Linked DNA regions of Homo sapiens: all the other regions are reported to be linked to region 3. The links are microRNA targets in miRTarBase. Many come from high-throughput screens and were not tested one by one. Region 3 holds a microRNA gene; each other region holds the end of a gene's coding sequence.
Evidence for each region. Region 3 holds the annotated microRNA hsa-miR-4478 (GAGGCUGAGCUGAGGAG, at 1,890-1,906, shown strand). A microRNA usually pairs through its seed, bases 2 to 8, with sites in the 3' UTR of a target mRNA and lowers its output. Matches are read on the target gene's strand: a 7mer-m8 pairs with bases 2 to 8, a 7mer-A1 pairs with bases 2 to 7 and ends in A, and an 8mer does both.

Region 1 (3,872 bases), not on the chromosome of region 3:
GGGGAATGGCTGAAGGCTTTGGAGAGGTTGCTGCCCCCAGAATCCCAGCCAGAGGGCAGTTTATCCAGGAGCCCGGTGCCTCCTCTGTTGGGTGGGCGTGGCCTCAGAGGGCACCAACCAGAAGACACATGCTGTCACTGACATGCGGGCCCCCAGCGTTAGGGCAGGCAGGAGCTCCGAGTCTCTACCCCAGCTGTCCCCACAGTGCACATGGACTAGGCTCCTCCCACGGGGCACTAGGCCAGGCCAGGGGTGTGGGGTGAGCCCCTGGGGAGCCCAGAGCAGGGTACACTCATGTCCCCACCATCCAAGGTGAGATGTCTGTGCTGGAGGCCCAGAGGGAGCTGGGCCGGCTGTCACTCCACCACAAGGCTGAGCAGGCTCCCCAGTGGGAGACAGGTTTGGGGAGGTGTCCAGGTTGAGGGCACAGTCAGGAGGGGCCATGTGTGCCTGAGTAGGGCAGGGGGAGGAGGGGGATGGCCAGTGGCCACGGGCCAGGCTGCCTGGCAGGACCTGGAGGTTTCCTCAAGCTAAGGCCAGGCCCATGTTAGATGCTGGGAGGGTGGGTGTGGCTGCAGAGGGGTCAGCGTGGGGGCACTGACTAACCTCCGGCCATCCTCTCCAGGCCCAGTGACGAGCACCATCCGGAAGTGAAGGCTGATGGGTACGTGGACAACCTCGCAGAGGCAGTGGACCTGCTGCTGCAGCACGCCGACAAGTGATGGCCTCCTGGGAGAGCCCCGCCTCCTCCACCCCTGCCTCTCCTCCACCCCTGCCTCCCCTCCACCCCTGCCTCTCCTCCACCCGCCCAGGAGAGCCCCACCTCCTCCACCCCTGCCTCTCCTCCACCCCTGCCTCCCCTCCACCTGCCCCAGTGCCCAGACCAACCAAGGCCCTGACAGCCCTGCCTTCTGCCCTCTGCCCTGCATGGGCAGGCATTTGTTCCCTACCTGGGTGGCCTGCTCCCCTGCCTGGGCCCTGACTTCAGCTCCCTGTAGTGAAGTCCAGGAGGGTGGGACAGGCCTGTCAGGCCTCTGGGAATCTCCCAAATCCCAGAACTCACCACTCACCATGGGCCTTTAAATGCAGTAAACTCCACCTAACCAGATTCAGGGGCACTATGCCCACTGCCTCCTCTTCAGACTCTTTGCATTTCAGTGAAGAGCCTGGAAGAAACCCAGGGGCCTCCTATGCACAGATCTTGCAGCCCAGAACCAAGTCAGCCTCCCTGCGACTGCCCAGGCACACTGCCCACCACCCCACCCCCGAAACAATGCCAGCCCGCTGCTTTTTCTATCCTCCCAGTCACCTTTGCAGACAAAGACCAGGGGCAGCTCCCGAGGGCACTGTGAAGGCTCCCATGCCACACAGTGAGAACTGTAGCCTCTGCGTCCAAGGCACACAGGGTACTTTCTGGACCCACTGCTGGACAGACTTGAAGGTGTCATGCCCGGTGTGTGCAGGAGGAAACTAACAGTTCAGTAAACTCTGCCTTGACCAGCAGCCTTTGACTCAGGCTTTGACTGCTAGGAAGAACCGTATGGGGGAGGCCACCAGCAGGGTCTGGGCCACTGTCTCTAGTCCTGCCTTATGCTTGAGCCACTGAATATCAGAGGTGCGAGGGACAAGGGCCCTGAAACACCTCACCTGCTCCAGCCCCTTCACTTAGCAGATGGGGAAACTGAGGCCCAGAGGGGCCAGTGAGCTGCTGTTGGCCCTATCTGGAACGAGGCAGTCCAGGGCAAACTTTGGCACTGCCTTCCCTAACGGAACAGCCTGTGGCCTGGGGGTGGTGAGCTTTGCTTTCCCGACCAAGGGCGCGGCGGCCTTCCCACAGGGGCCCTGGGAACAAATCACTCATAACTGAAGTTTCAGGTTTCAGAATCAGTCAGCTGAACAGATAACTTGATTGCTCCATTTCTCCCCAAATCAGTTCAGAAGCTACTGATAACCCTTGAGAGACTGCTTCTTTATTTTATTTTATTATTATTATTTTTGAAATGGAGTTTTGCTTTCGTTGCCCAGGCTGGAGGGCACTGGCGTGATCTCAGCTCACTGCAACCTCCGCCTCCTGGGTTCAAGCTATTCTCCCGCCTCAGCCTCCCGAGTAGCTGGGATTATAGGTGCCCGCCACCACGCCTGGCTAATTTTTTGTATTTTTAGTAGAGACAGGGTTTCACCATGTTGGTCAGGCTGGTCTCGAACTCCCAACCTCAGGTGATCCGCCCACCTCGGCCTTCCAAAGTGCTGGTATTACAGGCATGAGCCACTGCGCCCGGCCTGGAGAGCGCTTCTTATGAGAGAAGCCATGGGTCTCCGGAGCAGGATTTCCACCACATGAAGGTGGACGATAAGAAAGTGTGGGACCCACGCCGGGGAGGGGCAAGTACAGCCCCCGCAAGGCCGCCCATTAAATCAGGATTGGGGGAAACGGTGACAGTCTTTTCAGCAAGATGAGAGGCCACCAGCCGGGCCAGTGTCACTGGATTTGAGGGAGGGCCATTTGGCCCCTTAGTTGGAAAATATGCAGATGGCTGGCTCCTTGATGGAGTCCCCTGATGGCAGCTCCTTAGGAGACAATACAGGACGTTCAGGCGGCGGCTGCAGTTCAGTGGCAGCCTGGAGGGGCTGTGCGTGATGCCGGGCTGTGCGTGATGCCGGGCTGTGGGTGATGCCATGCTGTGCGTGATGCCGGGTTTGTGGGTGATGCCGAGTTTGTGGGTGATGCCGGGCTGCGGGTGATGCCGGGCTGTGCGTGATGCCGGGTTTGTGGGTGATGCCGGGCTGTGCGTGATGCCGGGTTTGTGGGTGATGCCGGGCTGCGGGTGATGCCGGGCTGTGCGTGATGCCGGGCTGCGGGTGATGCCGGGCTGCGGGTGATGCCGGGGCTGTGTGTGATGCCGGGTTTGTGTGTGATGCCGGGCTGTGCGTGATGCCGGGCTGGGGGTGATGCCGGGCTGTGCGTGATGCCGGGCTGTGCGTGATGCCAGGCTGTGCGTGATGCCGGTTTGTTTGTAGGTCTTTAGTTTTTTCTTTCTTTTGTGTTTAATGGGGAAGCTTCCCGCCAAGACAGCAACCCCTCTGGGGGAAGGAGTTCAAGCTGAGACCTCTTTTTTTTTTTTTTTGAGACGGAGTCTCGCTCTGTCGCCCAGGCTGGGGTGCAGTGGCCAATCTCGGCTCACTGCAAACTCCGCCTCCCGGGTTCACACCATTTCCCTGCCTCAGCCTCCCGAGTGGCTGGGACTACAGGTACCTGCCACCACGCCCAGCTAATTTTTTGTATTTTTTAGTAGAGACAGGGTTTCACCGTGCTAGCCAAGATGGTCTCGATCTCCTGACCTTGTGATCCGCCTGCCTCGGCCTCCCAAAGTGCTGAGATTACAGGCGTGAGCCACTGCGCCCAGCCGAGACCTCCTCTTTCAAGTTGCTACCCAGGAGTGGGGTGCCCAGAGGGACAGCCCCTGGAGGTGCAGCCCCCTGCTTTGTTGGGGCGGGAGCATGCCACCCTCTGAGCCGCGGTGGGCTCAGTGAAGTGGGTGTTGTCATCCTTCCCACTGCACGGGTCTAGAGTCTGGGGTGCGGTGAGCTCGCGGCTTGCTGAGGGCCAACAGTTAGTGAGGGGTGGAGCTGCGACTTGCAGGAAGGTCCAGCCCCGCCTCCCAGGCCCTTTCTAGCCCCTTCTGTTGCCGTGCTGCTTCCCACCCTTGCCTGGAATCCTCCTGTGGGGGACGCATGTGGTGGCCCCTGTGGCTGACTTTCCGGCTGAGCCAGGGCACCAGTGTCCTCACTCTAGAGATGAGCTCTTCTGAGGGGTGAGGTCCAGCCACACCTGTGGTGGGGTGGTGTAGCCCGAGCCTGTTACCCCGTCTATA
Region 2 (3,000 bases), not on the chromosome of region 3:
GGAGACTGCCACTACAGTTGTTGCTGCTGCCTCCTCCACCAGCATCCCTAGCTCAGAGGCCACGACCCCAACCCCAGGAGCCTCCCCACCAGCCCCTGAAATGGAAAGGCCTCCAGGTAGGTGTGATTGGCCTCCAGCCGGGGGAGCAGGGAACTTCTCTAGGTTCCACTTCCAGTCTCTCTGTCCCCAGCTCCTGAGTCAGTGGGCACAGAGGAGATGCCTGAGGATGGAGAGCCCGATGCAGCAGAGCTCCGCCGGCGCCGCCTGCAGAAGCTGGAGTCTCCTGTTGCCCACTGACACTGCCCCAGCCCAGCCCCAGCCTCTGCTCTTTTGAGCAGCCCTCGCTGGAACATGTCCTGCCACCAAGTGCCAGCTCCCTCTCTGTCTGCACCAGGGAGTAGTACCCCCAGCTCTGAGAAAGAGGCGGCATCCCCTAGGCCAAGTGGAAAGAGGCTGGGGTTCCCATTTGACTCCAGTCCCAGGCAGCCATGGGGATCTCGGGTCAGTTCCAGCCTTCCTCTCCAACTCTTCAGCCCTGTGTTCTGCTGGGGCCATGAAGGCAGAAGGTTTAGCCTCTGAGAAGCCCTCTTCTTCCCCCACCCCTTTCCAGGAGAAGGGGCTGCCCCTCCAAGCCCTACTTGTATGTGCGGAGTCACACTGCAGTGCCGAACAGTATTAGCTCCCGTTCCCAAGTGTGGACTCCAGAGGGGCTGGAGGCAAGCTATGAACTTGCTCGCTGGCCCACCCCTAAGACTGGTACCCATTTCCTTTTCTTACCCTGATCTCCCCAGAAGCCTCTTGTGGTGGTGGCTGTGCCCCCTATGCCCTGTGGCATTTCTGCGTCTTACTGGCAACCACACAACTCAGGGAAAGGAATGCCTGGGAGTGGGGGTGCAGGCGGGCAGCACTGAGGGACCCTGCCCCGCCCCTCCCCCCAGGCCCCTTTCCTCTGCAGCTTCTCAAGTGAGACTGACCTGTCTCACCCAGCAGCCACTGCCCAGCCGCACTCCAGGCAAGGGCCAGTGCGCCTGCTCCTGACCACTGCAATCCCAGCGCCCAAGGAAGGCCACTTCTCAACTGGCAGAACTTCTGAAGTTTAGAATTGGAATTACTTCCTTACTAGTGTCTTTTGGCTTAAATTTTGTCTTTTGAAGTTGAATGCTTAATCCCGGGAAAGAGGAACAGGAGTGCCAGACTCCTGGTCTTTCCAGTTTAGAAAAGGCTCTGTGCCAAGGAGGGACCACAGGAGCTGGGACCTGCCTGCCCCTGTCTTTTCCCCTTGGTTTTGTGTTACAAGAGTTGTTGGAGACAGTTTCAGATGATTATTTAATTTGTAAATATTGTACAAATTTTAATAGCTTAAATTGTATATACAGCCAAATAAAAACTTGCATTAACAATTGGTGGGGTTTGTGTCACAGAATCGATCAAATCAGTGTCGGGCTCCTTGCTGTGGCTGTACACTTGAAAATGGAATGGAATCTCCAGGAGTGAGGGTTTCCATGGAAGCCAGCACTATCCTTGGGGACACCACTGACCATTAACAGATTAGGAAGATGTGCCCATTTTACACACAGAGAAGCAGCCCAGAGTTCAGTGCCCTGCTTCAGGGCAGAGACCAAGTTGGGGAGTCAGGAACTGAAAGCTGTCTTAGCCAGTTTGGGGGCAGGGTGGGGTCTCAGGCCTTTGGCCCCTGTGACTCCAAGTATAAGGCATATATGAAGGCTAGTGAGCTGGGGTTGGGATGGGATGGCAGGGTGAAAGGTCAGCATATTCCTGCCTGCAAACCCCTCCCCAGCCTTGATTGCAGGTCAGAAGGCTGCAGGGGGATGTCCCTATGCTGGCTGTGAGTTCCCAGCCACTCCCTTGTGGTCAGGCCAGCAAGTCTGGTCTGCAATGGAACAGTGACCAAGAACGTGCCTCCTACCTCTCTATCAGAGCCCGGGGCTAACGTGGGCACTCTGTGCCCCAGTGCCAGCACTGTACTTTGAACAGAAGATCTCCAAGACCCATGCCCGAGTCATCTGTGTTCTCCATCACCTGCACCAAACAAGATCTGGCCTAGAGCAAAGGCTTGGGGGTATTTGCAACAGTGAGCTTCGGAGGGCCAAGGAAACAAAGTGCCCAGTGGCTCTGCCCTGTGCTACCTTCCCCTAAACTGGGGTTGGGCTACTGCTTCCACCAAATAACAACTAGAATTTGAATTGCTGAGCCCAAGGAAAGAAAAACAAAACAGGCCAAGGTGGACCAGGCACATGGCTCATGCCTATAATCCCAACGCTTTGGGAGGCCAAGGTGGGCGGATCACTTCGAGTCAGGAGTTTGAGACCAGCCTGGCCAACATGGTGAAACCCCATCTCTACTAAAAATACAAAAATTAGCAGGCTGTGGTGGTGGGCGCCTGTAATCCCAGCTACTCAAGAGGCTGAGGCAGGAGAATCCCTTGATCCCAGAGGTGGAAGTTGCAGTGAGCCAAGATCATGCCACTGCACTCCACCCTGGGCAACAGAGTGAGACTCCGTCTCAAAAAACAAAAAAGAACAGGCCAAGATAGGAGGGAGAGAAAGCTGCTGACGCCCCCCATTAGCCTGGTGATCCCTATTTGGTCTCCCACATTAGGCACTCTCCCCCAGCATGTACATAGAGTTGTTTTCTCCTTTATGCAAGCAAGGCCTGACCCCAAAGTCCTTTAGCCCTAGTTTCTGTATCCCCTGTCTCAGGGGCTCCAACACCCACCTCCCTCCTCCTGAGGCCCCCTAGACTTGATCCACAGGGCATGCTGACAAGCAGGCTGCTCGGCTGGGCCTCAGAAGCCTTTCTCCAAGAGCCAGGCTTTAAGCTCCTGGTCAAAGTAGCCCTTGATCCGTAGGGTACCTGTCACCTCATTGACCTGGGTGACAGGTGTCTTCCCCAGCAGCGGGCTCAGAAAATCTTCCACGTCTTTCTGCAGGGCCTGGGGAAAGATGACAAATCAGGTCAGGCCAAGAGTCCCTTCCCTTA
Region 3 (3,872 bases):
CAGAATTCAGGAAAGCATGTTATAGGCCCAGGGCAGTCCTGGTATTGGGGCAAAGAAGGGCAGGCAACCCTGGGTCACCGACTTGTCCTAGGGGTCCAGTCCCCGGGATTTGGCCTCTTGGAGCCCACTGGGTGGGTGTCTAGGGGAAACTGAAGATGGATCTGACTCAGTTGGGTCCTGGTACCAGCATTTTGGCTTGGGAGTGGGAAAGGGTAATAAAGGACTCTACAGTCACAAGAGCTTGGCCGCTGCCTGGACAGGCAGCCTATGCAAGTCCCCTCCTATCTCTGAGCTGCCATTTCTTTATCTTTCTGAGTTCCACCTGGGGCAGGACCTTCAGCTTCCCAAGTCTCACCAGACCATCGCCTCCCGGGTGCCAGGCTGAGTTGGCTCTCAGGCCCTCTCTTTCCCAGGCGGGCCTCGGGTGGTGCCAGGTGCCGCAGGAGCTTCCGGTTGGTGCAGGGAGCTGGCTGGCGTGGGCTGTCTGAGGGCAACTGTCTCGGTGCTTAGCTGAGGCCTCATCGAGTGGCACCTGTGGCCCGGGCCAGCTGGGATGGGAAAGGGTGGTCTGGCCTCCACCTGCTCAGCTCACTTGCCCTCTAGCCACTCTCACTTGAGCCTCAGCCTCCTGTATCTGCTGCTGCTGCTGGAGCCCAAGGGGCTGGGGCCATGGCTGGGTGCCCCAAAGACAGGAGAGAAGGAGGTGCTGGGGCTTTGCGCCCTGGAGGGGACAGCTAGAGACTCATCAGGCAGGAAGTATCTCCTCTTCTTGATTCTGATCCTTCACCCACCTATGTCAGCCTCACACCTGTACCTGTACACCTGTGGGGCAGCCTTCCCCACCTGTGGTTTTCCCCACTTCTGGAGCCCTAGAAGAATATGTAGAGCAGGCTTGGGGTGTGGCCCCATGGAGCACCCCCAAACTGCCTCTGGTCCCCAGGCTCCGGCTTGTGCTGTCCCTTCCCGCTGTCTGGATTTTGGCCTGTCTGTGGGACCTTGAGGAGCCTGGAGCCTGGAGCTGCCAGCTCGTCTGGGCCCTCCAGGCTCCAGGATCTCTGGAGGCCATGGGTGGGGCTGGTGCTGGCCTTGTTGGTGTTGCTCCTGCTGGAGTAGTGGTGCCCTCTGGCATCTGTGCCTTCCACGGCAGGTCACTGGTGCCATTTGCCATGTGCAGTGGGTGCTGGAGTCTAAGCTCGTGGAAAACTTCCAAGGCCTGGGCTATGGTCCTCATGGCCGTGCGGCCTGCCTTGACACACACAGAAGGGACACATGCACTAGTGTGCGTTCAGGGGACACGTGAACACACCCCTCATATTCAGACAGGTGTAAACAGCTCAGCCACACAAGTGCTGAGCTCCAGCAGACTCACGCACGCAGCCACACATATAGACAAGGTACAGGTGTAGCCAGTGTGTGAACATTGATAAGTCTGTCAAGGCAGATATGTGCACAGTCCAGAACACAAGACGGGTAGAAAGGCAGACCTACAAATGTGCACAGATCCCTGCCAACAAACATGCATATCCATACATGCACATATGCATACACAAGCTGTCATGGGCACACTTACAGGGGAACATGCCTTACTCAGAGCACAGAGCATTTCTCCAGCCCTCCCTGCATCCACTGCAAATGGGGACACATGTCCTATCCCTCAGCAGGCAGGGAAGGGCTGGGGGAGGGAACTTCACCTTTTCTTAGACCCATGGCAATGGAAAGTGGGCACCATCTTGGGTGATGTAGCCAAATGTCTCCTGTTCTGGGAGTCTCGGCACACATAGAAGATTCTGGAGAGGAGGGGGAGGTGCAAGGCATGATCCACTTCAAGCAGCCACCAAGCCCAGTGGGAGCTGGGTCTCTGGGCTTAGCAAGACAAGAGCCCAGGGGCCGAGGCTGAGCTGAGGAGCCTCCAAACCTGTAGACAGGGTCATGCAGTACTAGGGGCGAGCCTCATCCCCTGCAGCCCTGGCCTCTGCAGGGACAAGGGAGAGGAGAGGGTACGTCTGCAGGAGGGATTGTGGATTCAGCCTCCCATGTAGGATATGAAGCGACTCAGGCTGGGAGCAATCAGAGATCCCTGGGTTTGTCATGGCGCTGGGGTCTCCTTAGGACATCAGAGCCAGCTGTTACCTGCAGGGAAACCATCCAGATATATTTAGATACACACATACTTAGCATTGCATTACAATTGCTGACAGTATTCAGCACAGTACCATGCTGTACAGGTTTATAGTGTAGGAGCAATAGGCTATGCCATGTGGCCTAGTTGTGCAGTAGGCTACACCATCTAGGTTCATGTAAGTTTGCCCACCAAAATTGCCCGGTGACACATTTCTCAGAATGTATCCCCATCTTTTTTTTTTTTTTTTTTTTGAGATGGAGTCTCACTCTGTCGTCCAGGCTGGAGTGCAGTGGCACGATCTCGGCTCACTGCAACCTCCGCCTCCCGGGTTCAAACAATTCTTCTGCCTCAGCTTCCTGAGCAGCTGGGATTACAATCACGTGCCACCACACCCAGCTAATTTTTGTATTTTTAGTAGAGATGGGGTTTCGCTATGTTGGCCAGGCTCATCTCGAACTACTGACCTCAGGTGATCCGCCCACCTCGGCCTTCCAAAGTGCTGGGATTACAGGCATGAGCCACTGTGCCCGGTCGTATCCCCATCATTAAGTAACGCATGACTGTGTTCATAAGGTTGTGCAACCGGTTCCACTATGGCGCTCCAGAACATTTTTGTGACCCCACAAGAAACCCTGTGGCCATGAGATGTCACTCCCCATTCCGTCAGCCTCTGCAACCACTAATTCACTGTTCGTCTCCATGGATTTTCGTATTCTGGGCATTTGGTAGGAATGGAATTAGACATTATGTGGCCTTCCGTGTCTGGCTTCTTTCACTTAGCATAATGTTTTCAGGGCCCTGTGCCTCTGGTTTATAAGTGAGGACACTGGCCCAGACAGAGGGAGTGACTGTCCAAAGTCACATAGCAGCCAGGAGTCAGGCCCCTACACAGTGTTGGCTTTTTTAGGACCTCAGCCTTGGTCCCTGGGGTTGTGGGCTGTGGACAATGGAAGAGGTCACACTTCATCTAAAGGGGCAGCTATTACTCAGCTCTGCCTGGGACAGAATCCAGGGGCAGCACTGCCTAATACTAAACACTGTAAATAATGATACAAACGGCCAGGCACGGTGGCTCAAGCCTGTAGTTCCAGCTACTTGGGAGGCTGAGGCAGGAGGATCACTTGAGCTCAGGAGGTCAAGGCTGCAGTGAGCCATGATTGTGCCACTGCACTCCAGTCTGGGTGACAGAGAAAGACCCTGTCTCAAAAAAAAAAAAAAAGTTACAAATAACACCAGCTAACATTTTGCATGCTTCTTTTGTGCCTGGTGCTGTTCTAAAGAAGTGCTGTATAGGCACTTTCTTATTTAATCTCCATGACAATCTTGGTGAAAGTGCTGTTATTATCCCCGTTATGCAGACGAAGGAAGCAGAGCACAGAGAGGTTAAGTAACTCAGCCAAGGACACACAGCAAGCTAGTGGCAGAGTTAGGATTGGAACCCAGGTAGTCTGACTCCAGAGCCCCTGCTCTTACCCACCTATACAGATGCATTCCTTCTTCCAGATTTGTAAAGGAAGGCAGTAATACAGATTTTAATGTGAAACCTCATAAGTTTAAATGTTTCCAAGTGTCGACAACTTATGACAATTGTTTTTTGACACCGTACAGGCTGCAGGGCCTAAGCCTGGAAAGTTTCGTTTAATACAAAGGGAGAGGGCCCTCACCTTTGGTTTCTTCCTCAGCATCACTGCCATTCTGTCCAATACCACTTGGTCATCTTCTCCCTGACATTTCTTGCAGAGGCAGAGAG
Region 4 (3,872 bases), not on the chromosome of region 3:
GATGTCCAATTCCTTTTTATCATCTACCTGAGGACTGTATCCTGCAATCCTGCTGTAATTGCTTATTAATGTCAGCAGGGTTTTTGTTATTTAGAATTCTCTACAAAGACAATCATGTTACTTGTGAACAAAGTTGTATTTCATCCTTTCAAATCTATGTGCATTTTATTTCTTTTTTTTTTAACACTGCATTATATAGCACTTCCAGTACAATGCTGAAAAGCAGTGGTGTGGTGTTCCTTGCCATGTTCCTGATCTTAGTAGGAAAGTGTCTAGTTGGAAACATCAAGGATAATGTTAGCTGTAGGGTTTTTTGTAGTATGTTCTTTACCAACTTGAGTAAGTTCTCCTGTATTCCTTCTGTGTTGAGAGGTTTTAACATGAATGGATATTGGATTTTGTCAAATGCTTTTTCTGTACCTATTGATATGATCGTATTTCATCTTTGAGCTGCTAATGCATGCAATGGATTACACTGAATATCAAATGTTGAACAAGCCTTGCATTCCTGATTTGCTAATATTTTGAGGATTTCTGCATCTGTGTTCAATGGAAATATTGATCTGTAGTTTTCCTTTCTTGTAATATCTTTGCCTGGTTTTGCTATTAGGGTAATACTGGCCTCACAAAATGAGTTGGGAAGTGTTATCTCTGCTTTTATTTTCTGAAAGAGATGGTAGAGACTTGGTATCATTTCTACCTTAAGTATCTCAAAAACACATCAGTGAACCCAGCTGGTCCTGGCACTTTGTTTTGGAAAGTTTCATTATTATTTTTTGAGATGCAGTCTCATTCTGTCACCCAGGCTGCAGTACAGTGGCACAATCTCAGCTCACTGCAACATCCACCTCCCAGGTTCAAGTGATTCTTCTGCCTCAGCCTCCTGAGTAGCTTCGACTACACACGCATGCCACCATGCCCAGCTAATTTTTTGTATTTTTAGTAGATAGGGGGTTTCACCATGTTGACCAGGCTGGTCTCGAACTCCTGACCTTGTGATCCACCCGCCTCAGCCTCCCAAAGTGAAGTGCTGGGATTACAGGCATGAACCACTGTACCTGGCCTTGGAAGGTTATTAATTACTGCTTTGGTTTATTTAATAGATACATATGCCTATTGAGGTCTATCTTGTGTGAGCTTTGAGAGAATGCGTCTTGCAAGGAATTGGTCCATTTTAGCTAAGTTATCAAATTTATGGACAGAGTTGTCCATGTTTCTTTCTAATCCTTTTGGTGACCATAGGATTAGCTGTGATGGCCTCTTTCATTTTTGGTATTAGCAATATTTGTCTTCTGTTTGTTCTTAAGCTAGCTAGAGGTTTATCAATTTTACTGACCTTTTCAAGGAACCAGTTTTGGGTTTTATCGATTTTCTCTTTTCAATTTCAATGATTTTTACTCTAATGTTTTTTCAGGTTACTTTGGATTTAATTTGCTCTTCTTTTTCTAGTTTCCTAAAGTGGAAGCTTAGATTACTTGTGTAATCTAGGATCACTAGACTGTATAATCTTAGATTATTTGTATGATCTGATCATGTAATATAGTGTACAATCTTCACACTATCAATAAAAGCCCCACACCAGCTTGATTCTGGTTCTGCTCCAGCCTCAACCCTCCTCTTCATATTCTCAAAAGTCTGAGGGCCCAGATCCCTGTCTGGGGACAATGAGCCTTGAAATGACAGTCCAACAGCCCTGGGCAGCCCTGGGCTGTATGTGTGGGCCTTTCCAGGGCCCTGTCTTGGAGAGCAGCTGCTTAAAGAAAATTTGGACTACCACTTATGCTGAAGGCTGGAATGTTCACATATGTACCCTAGGCACTTCATGGCATGGCATGAGCCACAGGTAGGAAGAGAAAGGGAGTAACATGGAGGCGAGCCTAGATCTTCACATGTACAGGATAGATTTTTTTTAGATAATTTGTTATTTTGATTTATACCTTTTAAATGGATAAACATTAGCTCTGTGGGTCTCCTTTTAAATTGTTTCAGGACATCACAAACATCTGGGATGGGCCTGATAATGTAACCACTACTAAACTAGGATACCTACTTCCTATTCACAATTACGTTAAATTCCATTATGCATATGAAACACACGATTTATATCACATACCACTTATACATATATAAGTCTTTTGAACTTCAGGGATAATTCGCAGATGTGCTTAATGCTATTGCCCTGATTATTCAATTTATCTGTGCTTTAAAAAAACTTCATAGTCAAGTGGATGCAAGGGATAGGGTTGCAGAAAGCGTGTGGTTATTAATACAAAAAGGGAACTACTTGAGGCTAAATCCTTTGTAATCCTGATACAGTACAGATCTCAGATTCCTTTTCAGTTCTGTAAACTAATCGTGTTGATGGTTACTCAAATGTAAAAGTCGTAAAAGTTTGATATAACCACACACACACACATACACGTACACACACACACAGAGTGCATGCAAACCATAGTAAAATCTGACTAAGTCTCTATCTACCAGCAAGGTAACATCGATTTCTTGGACTTGACCATATACTATGATTATACATTATCCTTAGAGGAAGTTTGGTGAAGTGTACATGGGAATTCTCTCTACTCATTAAACTTCTTGTGAGGTTATTTTAATTATTACCTTTGTTTAAGTTCTTAAAGCTTTACATTCCACAATATACATCTATAAATTATTGTTAGGTGCCCTAAAAACTATTATGGCATCAAACTCAAAACATAACTTGTCGTATTTTATTTCTAAGCAAAATTTTCACTTTAGATTTCTTAAATTGACAATTTTCTCCTCAGTGTAAATTCTAACATAACCTTATTTGCATTTTTGCCAAAAACTTTCACAAATTCAAAAAAAATCTGTAAGGTGTTATGCCCGTATTAACCATCTGATATTACATAGAATATCACTTCCTAACAAAAGCTGTCCTATAATTGTTGTAGTCTATGGGTTTATCCCCTACTATTACTTTGGAGTAACATAAGGTGAGTTTGTGGATAGTTACTGAACATTCAGGATGTCATCAGGGCTTTCTCCACAGTGTGAATACTCTGAGGCATTATGGAGGCTGACTTGTGGCTGGAAATTTCTAATATCCATTTCATTCATAAGGTTTTCTCCTATATGTCTTCTCTGATGTACAATGAGATTTGACTTTTGAGAGAAAGTTTTCCTGCATGTGTTACATTCATAGGGCTTTTCCCCTGTATGTGATCTCTGATGTTGAGCAAGTTCCGATTTACGGTAAAAGATTTTTCCACATTCATTACATTGACAAGATTTCTCTCCTGTGTGAGCCCTGTGATGTACTGTGAGTGATGATTTGTGCCTGAAGAATTTCCCACATTCATTGCATTCATAGGGTTTCTCCCCCGTGTGCTTTCTCTCATGGAAAATAAGTCCTGATTTTACACAGAAAGATTTTCCACATTCATTACATTTATAGGGCTTTTCTTGTGTATGGGTTCTCTGATGTACAATTAGAGCTGACTTATGGCAGAAAGCTTTTCCACACTCATTACATTTATAGGGTTTCTCCCCTATGTGAATTCTCTGATGCTGAGTGAGTTGTGACTTCTGGTAGAAGGCTTTTCCACATTCATTACATTCATAGGGTTTCTCCCCTGTATGTGTTCTATTATGTTTAGTTAGGTATGATTTATTGTAAAAGATTTTTCCACATTCATGACATTCGTAGGGTTTCTCCCCTGTGTGTGTTCTATAATGTTGAGAGAGGGTTGACTTATGGCTAAAGAATTTCCCACATTCGGGACATGCAAAGGGTTTCTGCCCTGTGTGTGTTCTCTGATGTACTGTGAGGTCTGACTTCAAGCAGAAGGTTTTCCCACATTCATAACATTCATAAGGTTTCCACCCTGTATGAA
Region 5 (3,872 bases), not on the chromosome of region 3:
GCCAAAGCAAGCGGATCAGTTAAGCCGAGGAGTTTGAGACAAACCTGGCAAAATGGTGAAACCCGTCTCCTGGATAGAGGAGAATCGGCCTCACAAAGTGCTGGGATGACAGGCATGAGCCACCGCGTTCAGTCTACATATACATTTTTTTTTTTAAATTAAGAAATAAGGCGGGCATGGTGGCTCAAGCCTGTAATCCCAGCACTTTGGGAGGCTGATGCTCTTGGATCGCTTTAGCCCTGCAGTTGGAGCCCAACCTAGACAACAAGGCAAAACCCGGTCTCTACCAAGAACACAAAAATTGGCGCGGTGTGGTGGCGCGCGGCTGTGGTCCCAGCTACTCTGCAGGCTGAGGTGGGAGGATCCCTTGAGCCCAGGAGGTTGAAGCTGCAGTGAGCTGTGATCCGGTCACCGCTCTTCGGCCTGCGCAGCAGAGTAAGACCCCATCTCCATCAAAAAAACAAAAACAAAAACAAAAAAAACCACATGGGTCCTGGGTCTAGGGAGGCAGGGAATCTAAAACCAATTAACGCGAACTTTCCAAAACTAGACTAAAAGGAAAAACCCCATCTTCCCACCCAAAGTAACAAAGGATCAAAGGCTACTCTCCCTAACACCCTCCCCCTTCCACCAGGTCGCAGGTGGAAAGAGAAAGAGCCCAGGAGTGGCCAAGGCCAAGCACCGGCCACCCCTTCATCTGCATAGGGCACCCATCTGCTCTGGCCTCAGGCCAATTTACCTCAGTTATTTCCTTGGCCAAGGGCCAAATTCTTCATCCAGATAAGGGGTAGCCCATAGGGACCTCAAAAAAAAATAACCTCCAAAAACTTTGTAAATGGGGCCCTGGAGACGCTCGCTTGGGCCCACCCCCACCCTGTGGGGTGCTTTCTTGGTTGAGTAAATTTCTGCTTTCGCCGCTTCATTCTTTTGTTACTTTGTGGGGTTTTTTTTTTTTTCTTCAATTCTATGTTTAATATCCATCTACCTGGAAACTTCACATTCCAGGCCTGCCTTCCGGGAACAACAGGGCGAGGGTGGAAAAAGAGGGTTGCCTCCAGGAGAAGCACGTTTTCCTGGGGTTGGAACTGGGGAGAAGCAGGGCCGGCACGAGGAGGGAGGTGGTGGGCGATGGCGCCTTCGGACAGGGGTGGGGTCTGCAGGATCCCAGGACCAGGCAGAGGACGCGGCCTTCCCGGGAGTGGGGCTGCAGCGCTGCCCTCCAGGCGCCGATGAGGAGCCCAGGGCGAGAGTCCAACTCGCTGGTGAGGACCTGAAACAGCGCGAGGCGGGAGGACGGGTCGGGAAGGGTTTTGAGAAGGAAAGTTTCGCTACAGGAGGTGTCTGCACGGCCCTACTGCAGAAAAGACCGGGACGGGACCAGCCTCAGGGCGACTTTAAACTCAAAAGGAAAAGACTCACGGACTCCCACCCGGACGTCTCAATTTGCTCTGAGTTGAGAAAGAGGGGCCGGAATTTCCAGGTCTGTGGAGACACCCACGTCCCCGGTATAGCAGTACCAGAGAACTGGGAAGCGCAAACTCAACGGGGCAACCTTCAGTCCATGCCATCAGCTTCCGGGTCTGTGCCAATCAGCACAGTACAGAAGCCAGACCCGCGGGGAGACCCCCGAGGAGGTGGGCGGGGCCTGGGTCAGGCCAGACGGGAGGCGAAGAGGTGGGCGGGGCCTGAGTCAACCAAAATACTACTGGAACTAATCAACACATTCAGTGGATTTGCACAATGCAATAGCAGCACCAAAAATTAATTGAATTTCCATAAACAATAAAAAATTTAAACGAAAATTAAAAAACACTTCCATTTGCTAGAGATCTTAAAGTAAGAAATACTTAGGAATAAACATAAAAAAACTGAGAATTTCACACCTTGAAATCTACAAACATTAACCAAAATGATTAAAAACATATATATACAACCCACATTGATGGTTTGGAAAAATCAATATTGTTATTATATAAGCCAATGTGATTCAGATTCAACACAATACCTATAAAAACCCCTATTGGTTTTTGTTAAAGAAACAAAAAGCAGGCTGGGAAAAGTGACTCACGTCTGTTGGCCAGGCTGATCTCAAACTCATGACCTCAAGTGATCTATCCACCTTGGGCTCCTAAAGTGCTGGATTTACAGGCGTGAGCCACACGCCTGGCCCAATCCTCTTAACATAAACACTTTAATGTCAATTAATGCTTCAACTGAATGTTTTAAGTCAACTCAAACTCAAGTCAATTCTGAATTGACTCTACTGTCAATCCTTGATGGTTTGCTGTGCTCACCGCATTTGTAACTATTACCTCAAAAATGAACGTTATGATATTCTGCAAGGAGTAACCTCGGACTGAAGACCTTGCCACACATAGGACGTTTGTAAGATTTCTGTCCAGTATGGATCCTCTGATATCTAATGTGGTGTGAACGTGAAGTAAAGGCTTTGCTCACAATCATCACACTTGTGAGGTTTCTCTCCTGTATGAATTCTCCCGTTTTGCAAAAGATGAAGCTTGACTGAAGACCTTGCCACAATCATCACATTTGTAAGATTTCTCTCCTGTATAAGATCGCCAATGAACTGCAAGTTATGAATGATGTCTGAAAAACTTGCCACATTTATTACACTTGTAAGACCTCCTTCATTATGGATTCTCCAATGTTTTGCAATGGCTGTAATATTACTGAAGACTTTGTGACAATCATTACATTAGTCAAGTTTCCCTATACCATGGATTGCTTGATGGTGAGTAAGTGTTGACTGACCACCAAAGGCTCTGCCACACTCATTACACTTGTACAGTTCCTTTCCAGTGTGAATTCCAGTATGTTGGGCCAGGTGTGAATCACACCCGAAATCCTTGTCACAAACCTTACATTTGTATGGTTTCTCTCCAGTATGAACTCTCCTATGTATTTCAAGGAGTGATTTGAAATTGAAAACTTTTGTCACATTCTTCACATTTGTAAGGTTTCTCTCCAGTATAAAGTCTATGATGACATGCAAGGTTTGACTGTTGCCTAAAAACCTTGCAAATTTACACTTCTAAGATTTCTTTCCAGTATGAAGTCTATGATGACGTTCAAGGTTTGATTTTCGATTAAAAACCTTGCCACATTCATTACACTTGTAAGGTTTCTCTCCAGTATGAAGTCTACGATGACATGCAAGGTTTGATTTGTGATTAAAAACCTTGCCACATTCATTACACTTGTAACGTTTCTCTCCAGTATGAATGACCTTATGCATTACAAGAGATGAATTTTGAACAAAGGTCTTGCCACACTCATTACACTTGTAAGGTTTCTCTCCAGTGTGAATTACAGTATGTTGTGCCAGGTGTGAATCACGTCTGAAAGCCTTGTCACAAACCTTACATTTGTATGGTTTCTCTCCAGTGTGAATTCTCCTATGTCTTTCAAGGTGTGATTTGCGACTGAAAACTTTGTCACATTCTTCACATTTGTAAGGTTTCTCTCCAGTATGAACTCTATGATGACGTGCAAGGTTTGATTGTTGATTAAAAACCTTGCCACATTCATTACACTTGTAAGGTTTCTCTCCAGTATGAATTGCCTTGTGAACTAACAGGGCTGAATTGTGACTGAATGTCTTGCCACACTCATTACACGTGTAAGGATTCTCACCAGTGTGACATCTATGGCATGCAAGGTATCGCTTCTGATGAAAGTCCTTGCCGCATACATCACATTTATACTGTTTGTCTCCTAAATGGATTATCTGATGTTTTTTTAAGAGTGAGCTACCATTAAAGGCTTTGCCACTCTCATTACGTTGGAAAGATTTTTCTCTTGTGTGTACTTCCCGTTTTTGTGTGAGTAATGAAGACTGGAGGAAATTATTC
Region 6 (3,000 bases), not on the chromosome of region 3:
ATTTTATTTTATTTATTTATTTTTTAAGATGGAGTCTCACTCTGTCACCTAGGCTGGAGTGCAGTGGTGCAGTCTCGGCTCACTGCAACCTATGTCTCCCGGGTTCAAGCGATTCTCCTGCCTCAGCCTCCTAAGTAGCTGGGATTACAGGTGCACACCACCAGGCCCAGCTAATTTTTGTATTTTTAGTAGAGTCGGGGTTCACCTTCACCATGTTGCTAAGGCTAGTCTCAAACTCTTGACCTTGTGACCCACCTGCCTTGGCCTCTGAAAGTGCTGGGATTATAGGCGTGAGCCACCATGCCTGGCCTTTATTTTATTTTTTGAGGCAGAGTTTCACTCTGTCACCCAGGCTAGAGTGCAGTGGCATGATCTTGGCTCACTGCAACCTCTGCCTCCCCGGTTCAACCAGTTCTCCTGCCTCAGCCTCTCGAATAGCTGGGATTACAGGCGGCTGCCACTACCCCCAACTAATTTTTCTATTTTTAGTAGAGACAAGGTTTTGCCATGTTGGCTAGGCTGGTCTCGAACTCCTGACCTCGGGTGATCTGCCCACCTCGGCTTCCCAAAGTGCTAGGATTACAGGCGTGAGCCACTACACCCGGCCCAGAGTGAAGTCATTTTTCTATATCATGTTTCACACTTGCTTAATGTGTGGGGGAAACCCCCTCCCCCACATATCTGGTATCAGAAGTGTGAGAGTACACTAGGAGAAACCTCCTGAAGTGCTGGGATTACAAGTGTGAGCCACCATGCCCAGTCTAATGTGTTTCTGTAACTCCAAATCCTCTCTGAAACAAGATAAAGAATAGATTTTAAAATGTTTAAAAAAGACATGCTGGCGGGCGTGGTAGCTCATGCCTGTGATATGGTTTGGCTGTGTCTCCACACAAGTGTCACCTTGAATTGTAATAACCCCCATGTGACAAGGGCAGGGCCAGGTGGAGATACTTGAGTCATGGGAACGATTTCCCCCATACTATTCTCATGGTAGTGAATAAGTTTCATGAGCTCTGGTGGTTTTATAAATGGGAGTTTCCCTGCACAAGCTCTCTTGCCTGCCGCCATGTAAGACATGACTTTGCTTCTCATTTGCCTTCCACCATGATTGTGAGGCCTCCCTGGCCACGTGGAAATGTGCGTCAGTTAAGCCTCTTTCCTTTGTGAATTACCCAGTCTTAGGTATCTTTATTAGCAGCATGAGAATAGACTAATACACTCCTATAATCCCAGCATTTTAGGAGGCTAAAATGGGCAGATTGCTTGAGCCCAGGAGTTTGAGATCAGCCTGGGCAACATGGAGAAACCCTGTCTCTACTAAAAATACAAAAATTAGCTGGGCATGGTGGTGCAGGCCTGTAGTCCCAGCTACTCAGAGGCTGAGGCAGGAGAATCTCTTCAACCCAGGAGGCAGAGGTTGCAGGGAGCCAAGATTGTGCCATTGCACTCCAGCCTGGGCGATAGAAGGAGACTTGTCTCAAAAAACAAAAAACAAACAAAAAAAAAATTAGCTGGGCAGGATGGAGCGCGTCTGTAATCCCAGCTATTCGGGAGGCTGAGGTGGAAGGATCACTTGAGCCTGGGAGGTCCAGGCTGCAGTGAGCCATGATCATGCCACTGCACTCCAGCTTGGGTGACACAGTGAGACCCTGTCTCAATAAATAAATAAAGAAATAAAAAATTAGAAAGGAAAAAATTTTTAAAAAGATAGGGTATTTAGTGATGATCACTGAAGTACTTTGATCAAAATTAACTGATGTGCCAGTTTTTTGACACCTTTATTCATAAGTCAATATATTTGTCAGTTTGAATGTTATACACATGATAAAATAGATTATGAGAAGTATCATATTTACAATAAGAACACTATTTTATATAACTGACTCACCAAATATGCAACCTCTTGCAACAATAACAGAATGGACTCAACTCCATCCTTTGAATAGACCAATTTCATGATTCTCCTAAAAAGTTTTGAGTTGAGTATAGTTCCTTGTTGCTTCTCTCTGTGATCCAGAGCTTAAGAATCAATCCCTGGAAACCAGCCACTGGAACCAGACCTCTCCAGAATTGAGAAGAGACAGCCATAGAAAAAAGGACACAAACCCAAAAGTCTTGAGCGCTGTGCCATATGCTTGATTTCAGAGCATTCAGGCACTCAAGGTCAAGTGTGGGGCCATATATATATATGTCCTGTCATCTCAAATGCCACAACGGCTACAGTTAGCAGGATATCAGAGAGAGGAGGCATATCGTGGAGGAATGAATCAGTCCCAACAATTATGTGAGCATTTCTAAAAATTCAATACCAAGGATTCTTGAAAATACAAGTTTACAGACGGAAGCTATACAGCTAGCCATGAACTGAAGTGCATGTGCAATATCAAGAAGGAGGAGCTGTGCTTAAGAAACCACGCACGTCTTATTTATCTCTAATTTTAAAATAATTCATTCTCTTGTTGGGTATGCAAGTGAGCAGTGGAGAAAGTGGAGCATCTGCAATACCTGAAATTAAAAAAAAAAAAAAGGGAAAAAGAAAATTAAAAGTCATCACAGGAGGATGGATTTGAGTCAGTTTAAAAATGGCTGAGATTAGAGGGTGGATCATAGATGCCCCTCCTCCCTATTAAGTACAGAAGCAGAAGATGCAAGAGAGAGCAGGATGGGCTAGCAGACTAGGGTGATGGGTGAGCTCAGAAGTAATTAGCAGATTATAAGGATGGAATGGAGGCATGTTGTTAATTTTTCTAGCTTATAGAGTAAGCTGACCACTCACCCGCTGGTGCTAAGGATTTCAATGCTTCCAGAAGATGTGGGCTAGAGAACTTTATTAGGCATCGGAGGGGTTCTTCCCTCTCAGCCAAGATGCTCCCATTTAAACCACTTTTGAATTTCGTTTCAAGCTGTCAACAAACATTTATAAATGACTATTAAACATATTGTATAAATACGAATGGTAAAATATAATGAAATCATAATGATACGTTTCATTAATTCTTG

Region 1: the mRNA of LHPP is a reported target of hsa-miR-4478. Seed matches in the 3' UTR shown: 7mer-m8 at 1,220-1,226.
Region 2: the mRNA of MRPL49 is a reported target of hsa-miR-4478. Seed matches in the 3' UTR shown: 7mer-m8 at 2,423-2,429.
Region 4: the mRNA of ZNF33A is a reported target of hsa-miR-4478. The part of its 3' UTR that is shown has no 7-base or 8-base seed match.
Region 5: the mRNA of ZNF701 is a reported target of hsa-miR-4478. Seed matches in the 3' UTR shown: 7mer-m8 at 2,080-2,086, 7mer-m8 at 347-353 and 7mer-m8 at 212-218.
Region 6: the mRNA of CENPN is a reported target of hsa-miR-4478. Seed matches in the 3' UTR shown: 7mer-m8 at 1,553-1,559, 7mer-m8 at 1,377-1,383, 7mer-A1 at 516-522 and 7mer-A1 at 50-56.

The regions. Positions count from the first base shown.
Region 1 is chr10:124,612,639-124,616,510 of GRCh38, forward strand. LHPP (phospholysine phosphohistidine inorganic pyrophosphate phosphatase) reads left to right here. Exons shown (of 7, transcript NM_022126.4): 7 at 626-1,503. The coding sequence ends at 722. Among named protein-coding and RNA genes, the nearest start is that of FAM53B-AS1, 89 kb to the right of the region's middle. RefSeq lists an enhancer at 294-804.
Region 2 is chr11:65,125,679-65,128,678 of GRCh38, reverse strand. MRPL49 (mitochondrial ribosomal protein L49) reads right to left here. Exons shown (of 4, transcript NM_004927.4): 4 at 1,308-2,953. The coding sequence ends at 2,807. SYVN1 (synoviolin 1) reads left to right here. Exons shown (of 16, transcript NM_172230.3): 15 at 1-116; 16 at 191-1,400. The coding sequence ends at 297. Among named protein-coding and RNA genes, the nearest start is that of MIR6751, 2.8 kb to the left of the region's middle.
Region 3 is chr9:122,118,181-122,122,052 of GRCh38, reverse strand. It overlaps MIR4478 (microRNA 4478), which reads left to right and starts at 1,886; the gene lies at 1,886-1,971.
Region 4 is chr10:38,055,677-38,059,548 of GRCh38, reverse strand. It overlaps ZNF33A (zinc finger protein 33A), which reads right to left. Exons shown (of 5, transcript NM_006954.2): 5 at 1-3,872. The coding sequence ends at 2,989. Among named protein-coding and RNA genes, the nearest start is that of ZNF37A, 37 kb to the left of the region's middle.
Region 5 is chr19:52,582,638-52,586,509 of GRCh38, reverse strand. It overlaps ZNF701 (zinc finger protein 701), which reads right to left. Exons shown (of 4, transcript NM_018260.3): 4 at 1-3,872. The coding sequence ends at 3,053. Among named protein-coding and RNA genes, the nearest start is that of ZNF701, 14 kb to the right of the region's middle.
Region 6 is chr16:81,028,074-81,031,073 of GRCh38, reverse strand. CENPN (centromere protein N) reads right to left here. Exons shown (of 11, transcript NM_001100624.3): 10 at 2,777-2,903; 11 at 1-2,505. The coding sequence ends at 2,423. All of the region lies in intron 2 of CENPN-AS1 (CENPN antisense RNA 1), which reads left to right. Among named protein-coding and RNA genes, the nearest start is that of ATMIN, 6.3 kb to the left of the region's middle.